Linked DNA regions of Homo sapiens. The protein of the gene in region 1 purifies or fractionates together with the protein of each later gene. This does not show direct contact. Each region holds a gene or a part of one and is shown on either strand. Other genes may lie near its edges.

The links.
Region 2: the proteins of DIPK2A (region 1) and STX17 purify together in Homo sapiens (affinity purification with western blotting; one study listed by BioGRID). This does not show direct contact.

The regions. Positions count from the first base shown.
Region 1 is NC_000003.12:143,981,681-143,985,480, forward strand, and holds part of DIPK2A (divergent protein kinase domain 2A isoform a precursor), read left to right. Parts: intron 1-3,800. UniProt on the Homo sapiens protein: May play a role in cardiomyocyte proliferation through paracrine signaling and activation of the PPI3K-AKT-CDK7 signaling cascade.
Region 2 is NC_000009.12:99,947,936-99,951,653, reverse strand, and holds part of STX17 (syntaxin-17), read right to left. Parts: intron 595-3,718; coding exon 369-594; intron 1-368. UniProt on the Homo sapiens protein: SNAREs, soluble N-ethylmaleimide-sensitive factor-attachment protein receptors, are essential proteins for fusion of cellular membranes.

The sequences.
Region 1 (3,800 bases):
AGAAACAAAAACAAAACAAAAAATAAACCCAAAAAAACCACCCCAAACTAATAAAGTTTAACTTCAACAAAAGGATATTGGCTTGAGGGAGGTTGTGTTAATCTATCTTTTGAATTCATTTTGACTGTTGTAAAGATAATTATAGCTTGGCCTAAATTTGCTTCTTACTACCTGTGTGACTTTAGGTAAATCGTTTAACACTGTACTAATAAGATTGAACTGGATTTACAATTGAGGTACAGTTAAACTCTAAATTTCTTGGATTTTACATTTCCTTTATTGATCACATAAAATATTTGATTTTGATCTAGGTAGATTATTAGGTTATTTCAGCATTTGGAATTTGTTTTGTGCTTATCAGTAATAAAAAACAAGTTAAAATACTGTGTTTTTGTGTGTACACGTTTCCAATTTTTAAGTTTCTTGCATTTTTAGTGCTTGTGGATGCTCTCTACGTTTCTTATAGCATCAGTGCTTTTAAGAGTTTAGTGACTAGTCTATATATTTCATTATGAATTAGAAATTACTAGAGGTCAGTAAAGATGTTTCTCTAATTTAGTGGTTCTTCACTCTATTTGGAAGGGGGTTCATTATTTGTAGATGCCGTTTTAGTAGGTGTTTAGGAGGTGCATGAAGATAAGCATATCTTTTGATGAATGTCTGGAATTGTTACTTAAAATTTTTAAATAGAGAAAGCCCATCAGACTAACAGCAGATCTCTCTGCAGAAACCCTGTAAGCCAGAAGAGAGTGGGGACCAATATTCAACATTCTTAAAGGAAAGAATTTTCAACCTAGAATTTCATATCCAGCCAAATTAAGCTTCATAAGCGAAGGAGAAATAAAATCCTTTCCAGACAAGCAAATGCTGAGAGATTTTGTCACCACCAGGCCTGCCTTACAAGACCTCCTGAAGGAAGCCCTGAATATGGAAAGGAAAAAACAGTACAAGCCATTGCAAAAACATACCAATTGTAAAGATGATTGACACTATGAAGAAACAGCATCAACTAATGAGCAAAATAACCAGCTAGCATCATAATGACAGGATCAAATTCACACATAACAATATTAACCTTAAATGTAAATTGGCTAAATGTCCCAATTAAAAGACACAGACTGGCAAATTGGATAGTTAGAACCCACCAGTGTGCTGTATTCAGGAGACCCATCTCACATGCAAAGACACACATGAAACATTTACCAAGCAAATGGAAAGCAAAAAAAACACAAAAAAAACAAAAGGGGTTGCAATCCTAGTCTCTGATAAAACAGACTTTAAACCAACAAAGATCATAAAAGACAAGGGCATTACATAATGGTAAACGGATCAATGCAACAAGAAGAGCTAACTATATATACATGCTCCCAGGATCAGGAACACCCAGTTTCATAAAGTAAGTTCTTAGAGACCTACAAAGAGACTTAGACTCCCACACAATAATAGTGGGAGACTTTAACACCCCATTGTCAATATTAGACAAACGAGACAGAAAATTAGCAAAGATATTCAGGACTTGAACTCAGCTCTGGACCAAGTGGACCTAATAGACATCTACAGAACTCTCCACCCCAAATCAACAGAATACACATTCTTCTCAGCATCATATTGCACTTATTCTAAAATAGTAAAACACTCCTCAGCAAATGCAAAAGAAAATCATAACAGTCTCTCAGACCACAATTCTAATTGCAGTCAAATTAGAATTCAGAATTAAGAAACTCACTCAAAATTGCACAACTACATGGAAACTGAACAGCCTGCTCCAGAATGACTACTGGGTAAATGATAAAATTAAGGCAGAAGTAAATAAGTTATTTGAAACCAATGAGAACAAAGACACAACATATCAGAATCTATGGGACACAGCTAAAGCTGTGTTTAGAGGAAAATCTATAGCATTAAATGCCCACAGGAGAAAACGAGAAAGGTGTAAAATCGACATCCTAACATCACAATTAAAAGAACTGGAGAAGCAACAACAAACAAATTCTAAAGCTAGCAGAAGACAAGAAATAACTAAAATCAGAGCAGAACTGAAGGAGATAGAGACACGAAAAACCCTTAAAAAAATCAATGAATCCAGGAGCTGGTTTTTTGAAAAGATTAGAAAAACCAGACCACTAGCAATACAAACTGTTTTGTATTGGGAAGGCTGTTTCATCTACATTTTGTATTGGGAAGGCTGTTTCATCTACATTTTGTATTGGGAAGGCTGTTTCATCTACATTGAAAATCTGTTGATTAGTCACTTCCATTAATTATCTTAGCTAGATCTTCTGGATAATTTGCTATGGTTTCTGTATCAGCACTTGCTGCTTCTCCTTGCGCTTTTATCTTACGGTGATGAATTCATTCCTTAAACTGCATTAACCAGCCTCTGCTAGCTTCAAACTTTTCTTCTGAACTCTGAGCCTTCATAGAATTGAGGAGAGTTGGGTTCTTGTTCTGGATTGGGTATTGGCTTAAGGGAATGTTGTGACTGATTTGATCTTTTATCCAGATCACTAAAACATTCTCCCTATTAGCAGTAAGGCTGTTTTGCTTTCTTAACATTTGTGTGTTCACTGGCGTAGCACTTCTGATTTCTTTTGATAATATTTCCCTTGCATTCACAGCTTGGCTGTTTGGGTTAAGAAGCCTAGCTTTCTGCCTATCTCGGTTTTAGATGTGCCTTCCTCACTATGCCTACCTATTGTTTCTAGCTTTTGATTTCAAATGAGATACCTGTAACTGTTTTCATTTGCACACTTAGAGGCCATAGTAGGATTAATAGGCTTAATTTCAGTATTGTTGTGTCTCAGGGAACAGGGAGGCCTGAGGAGAGGCCTCCCTGTTCCCTGGGGATGGCTAGTTGGTGGAGCAGTCAGAACACACACATTTATTGATTCCTTTTTTTCTCTAATGTTCATTTTCTAGTTACATATTTTAGCAGTGGAAGGTATCTTAGATAAAGCCTGTTATTTTACTTAAGGTGAAAATGAGTGTTCATGGTCATGGAACACGTTTTTTTTTGATTTAGGATGATAATCCTGCCAGTAGTTTTAAAATCCATTAGAAAACCTTGCTAAGATAAGAGTAATTTTGAGGCTAGGCCAAGGAGAACAGAAAATATGGCTGGGAAAGGGAAACAAGATGAACTTGGACCAGATGTGCTCAGAGTGGAGGTTGCATTAATAGGATATCAGTTTGTCCCTTCCCAACCTTTGGATGTAGGGTAAAAGACATCTCTCAAGAATCTTTCCCTGAATTCCACCCCATCTGCTTCCTGACTAGGAAAGGCCCCTACTAAATGATCCCCTGGGACCTGCACCACTGCTTAGTAACTAACACTTTTCATATTCATAATTATTTGTTTGGTGACTGCATGCTCTTCTAAAATAAAAGCCCATGGCTAAATGGAGACTGTTTGGTTCACCCTTAATTGCCACCGTAACACAGTGCCTGTTGCCTGGTAAATAACTGCTGGTTAATAGGCTGCAGTGCTATCAGTTTAAATAAAAGGATTGGTTGATTACATTTACACAAGTGAAGAAGATAAGGGAAAGCATAAATACTTTTAGATTTGGTAATAAAGACAGTGTCTTCCCTCTTATTGATCATTTTGGTTCTTAGATTTTGATAAGCAAGACTTGTCATCCTATTTTAGCTTTATAATGTAAAGTTCTCTATTTAAATTTTTTTCAGGTCCATAGTACTGGTATGAGTTAGGAAAAAATGAAGTTAATCTCTAATAAACTGTTGAATGTAATAAGAAAATCCAAAGTCATTCCTAGTAGCAATCTCTACTGAAAGGATCT
Region 2 (3,718 bases), on another chromosome or scaffold:
ATCAGAATGCTTAAGAAAAAAAAGCATGCCTGAAGAGGTCACCCCTGCACCTGGAAAGGAGTAAAGAGTACTTTGCAGACAAGAATGACATTATCCTTAGGAAATATATTTAAATTTCTCTTCAATAAATAGACAAACGGGTACTTTCCCTGAAGTCCCACTCCATAAGCATAGCCTTAAATTTTTTATTCTGCAAAATATCCAGGGTACACATTTCCAGGAACACTGATCAGGGTCCAAGGATTCAGCATATTGGGATAGTGAATGGTCTCTGAAGACCTATAGATAATTCAGTATCTACTCAAGGAGGTGATCTTTAATTAACTGCACTACTGTGACTGAGAATAAGACTTAGCACAATACATTACCACCAACAGTCATGGATCTGGTCAAAGGAGGCTGTAGCAAAGTTTCTTCATCATTAAATTGCTTCTTAAGTTCTTCTACAGATTCCAAATGGAGTTGGAGAAATTCTGCTGTTGCTGCTGATGCTTCTTCTTTAACAGGATCTATCATTCTCTTCAGAAGTACTAGGTCATCCTTTCGGACTTTCAAACAAAGTTTCTCAATTTCTCGGATATTGGATCGGAGTTGCTATAAAAGAAAAAAATCATTAATGCCACCATTTCTTAGTATAAGATATCTTTCTTTTCAGAAGTAATGTTATAATAGTTGTGGATGGAAATTATAACAAATATCTCCACAATAGAAGGTGTAGCATAATACTTTTACATTTTCCATGTCTCTGGCTGGCCAAATGCAGCATCTTTGGAACCCACATGCTCATACTTTGAATTTATTTAGCATTTTTCCTTCATTAAATGTGGTTATACAAAAATAAATGCTCTTCACAATAAATCAAACACTACAGAAGCATATGAAATAAAAATGATATTCTCACTTCACCTATCCCACCCCCTCTTAACTCAATACTCCCACACATTTCTCACGGCTCATGCACACATTTAACATATATAAGGCTTCTCCCTTTTTATTAAAAAATGGATTACATTATACACAGTAATCTATAATTTGCCATTCCATACTCAACAATATTATCCCTCCTGCTCAATGGTTACACTATATTCCACGGTGTAGTGTAGAATAATTTACTCAGTCACTCCTTCGGTGATCAACATTCATGTTGTTCCTAATTTTTAGTTATTACAAACTATGAAACAAATATCCCTGCATATAAGTCCTAATTTACTATATTAGTATATATTAACATTATAGTATACACTAATATTAATATATTATTTTGTGTAGGAAAGACTCCCAGAAACAGGAATATTCAAATGATAATGTGCATTTTTATTTCAGAAGCTATTGTTGTTTTTTTCCCAAAAAGCAGTAACACTTCACACTAGCATCAAGGTATGATTGCCTATTTCTTCACATGCTGCCAGTCCTGCATGTCATCTCACTGTTGCTTTACTCTGCACTTCCCTATGAATGAAGTTGTTAGATTTTTATCAAATGATTTTCCTTCTTTTTGAGAAATACCTACTGGCTTAGTTATAAATTTACCTCTAATATGTTGCTATAATGAATTATGTACAGATTTTGTAGTGTAGAGTCATCTTTATATTCCTGGGATAAAGCCTTTCTAGTCAATATATATAATTTTTAAATACAATGCTGAATTCATTTGCTAGTATTTTATTTGAAACTTTAGCACATAGGAGTGTGTGTGTGTGTGTGTGTGTGTATACATGTGTGCATGTACACAGTTTGTGTATTTATACTATCTTTACTAGGTTTAAATTTGCTTTAACAGGTTTAAGGTTGTGCTAACTTCATAAAATATACTGGGGAGCTTTCCCTCTTTCTCAATGGTCTATACTTTGAAAACAAAGAAACAATCCCTTTAAGATTAAATAGAACAAATTTGCAAAAATAATCAAAGTAAGAAAAGTTATATGTCTATTCATATATTTTAAATTATTTTCCCCTAAAGTGTTTTCACAATATTAATGCAAATCCTACACAGTAGACAGACCAGTTAAGTAAGAATTAATTTTTCAAGTGCATACTCTGAGTGAGGTGTTACATTATTACAGTCCAAATTATTACATATGGAAAAAGCAAACAAAAAAAAACCTGTTTAGGATTTACTTAAGTTATCTAGTGGCAAAACTGGGGTTAAAACCCAGATATTCCGATAGGGCCAGCAATCTTTCCACTAAACTATAATAATAATGTCTATCTATGTAGTATCTTAATATAATACAATCTAAAGTTTCCATTTTACTGTAGTAAAATTAAAGTCAATTCTAGAAAAAAAAATAGTTTAGTTACAACCTAAAGCATCTTGTAAGATTTTTCTGGGTGAAAAAATTGTGCCTCTATCTTACCATGACTCTATACTTCCTGTAACCTTATCTTCAGTCTCTTACCATTCTAATATGAGCTGAAAAACCTAAGGATAATTAAACTGTAGATTCAAAATATGTGAAATGTAGGTATTAATATGTTAAAATTATATAACCTTAAAGGGGGCATAAGTGAGCATCTAATACAACCTCACAATTTTACAATAAGGAAACTGGAGTCTAGACAAACACAGTGGCAGAATTTGGACTACAGCCCAGGCCTCAAGTCCCAGAACAATACTGTTTCCAACACACCACCATTTCCTGGCTATGTGACTCCTTTCTGGACCATAATTATAAAGCTTGGTTATATAGTTACCAGTCTACAGAAATATTTTAGGTAATATTATCTTGGAGAAGCATTAAAAATTTTCTACAGCCAAACTTAATGAGCATTTGTTTGTGACACCTTCCTCACTTATGTAATTTGTACATATGTCTGTCCCCAGTCAAATTACAGTATCCAGCTAAGAACTCTATTACTATGAGTAATGTGGAAAATTTTGAGGGAGAGAAAGAAAAAACCCACTGAAGTATAAAATCTGATACTATAATAACAGCAACAATGATAACAAAAACATAAATAGTGGCTAAATTTTAATCAACACTTAAAGTTATCGATTGTGCTAACAGCTTTACGTCTTTTATCTTCCCCTCACAATATATCTTTGAAATGGATATTACTATTATTCTCATTTTATAGAAGAGAAAATTAAAGCAAGAAGTTCAAAAAGTAGCCCAGGATTACACTGCTAGTAAATAGTATAGGCAAGAATCAAATCCAGACCACAGATCTTGTGTTCTAACTACTTTATTACATAGCAAACACCATCCAACACAAACATAATGCAAATCACACACACAAGCCACATATGTAATTTAAAAATTTTTTAAATTACATTAAAAAAGTAAAAACAAGGGAAATTAATTTTAATAATATTTTATTTAACCTAATATAGCTAAAATACTATTTTAATATGCAATTATAAAACTTAAAATCTTTTACATTGTTTTATTTGTAGTAAGTCTTAGAAATCTGGTATATATTTTACATTCACAGCACATCTCAGTTCAAACTGGCTACATTTTAAGTGCTCAACAGTCACATGTAGTTAGGAGCTACTACATTGGATAGGGCAACTAGGGAATCTCTCTAAAATCAAACAGAGGGAACAGGATGGTAAAACCATATATGAAGAACATAAAGTCAGGTGTTTCTGCTTCTGAAAACAGCAGGCTAGGTGATTCAGACTAACCTTCCCACTAATGGCTACTTCAAAAGTTGAACAAAAATCAAATCACAAAACAAACCAATAGGAAAAAAAAAAAAAACTTGAAAAGTA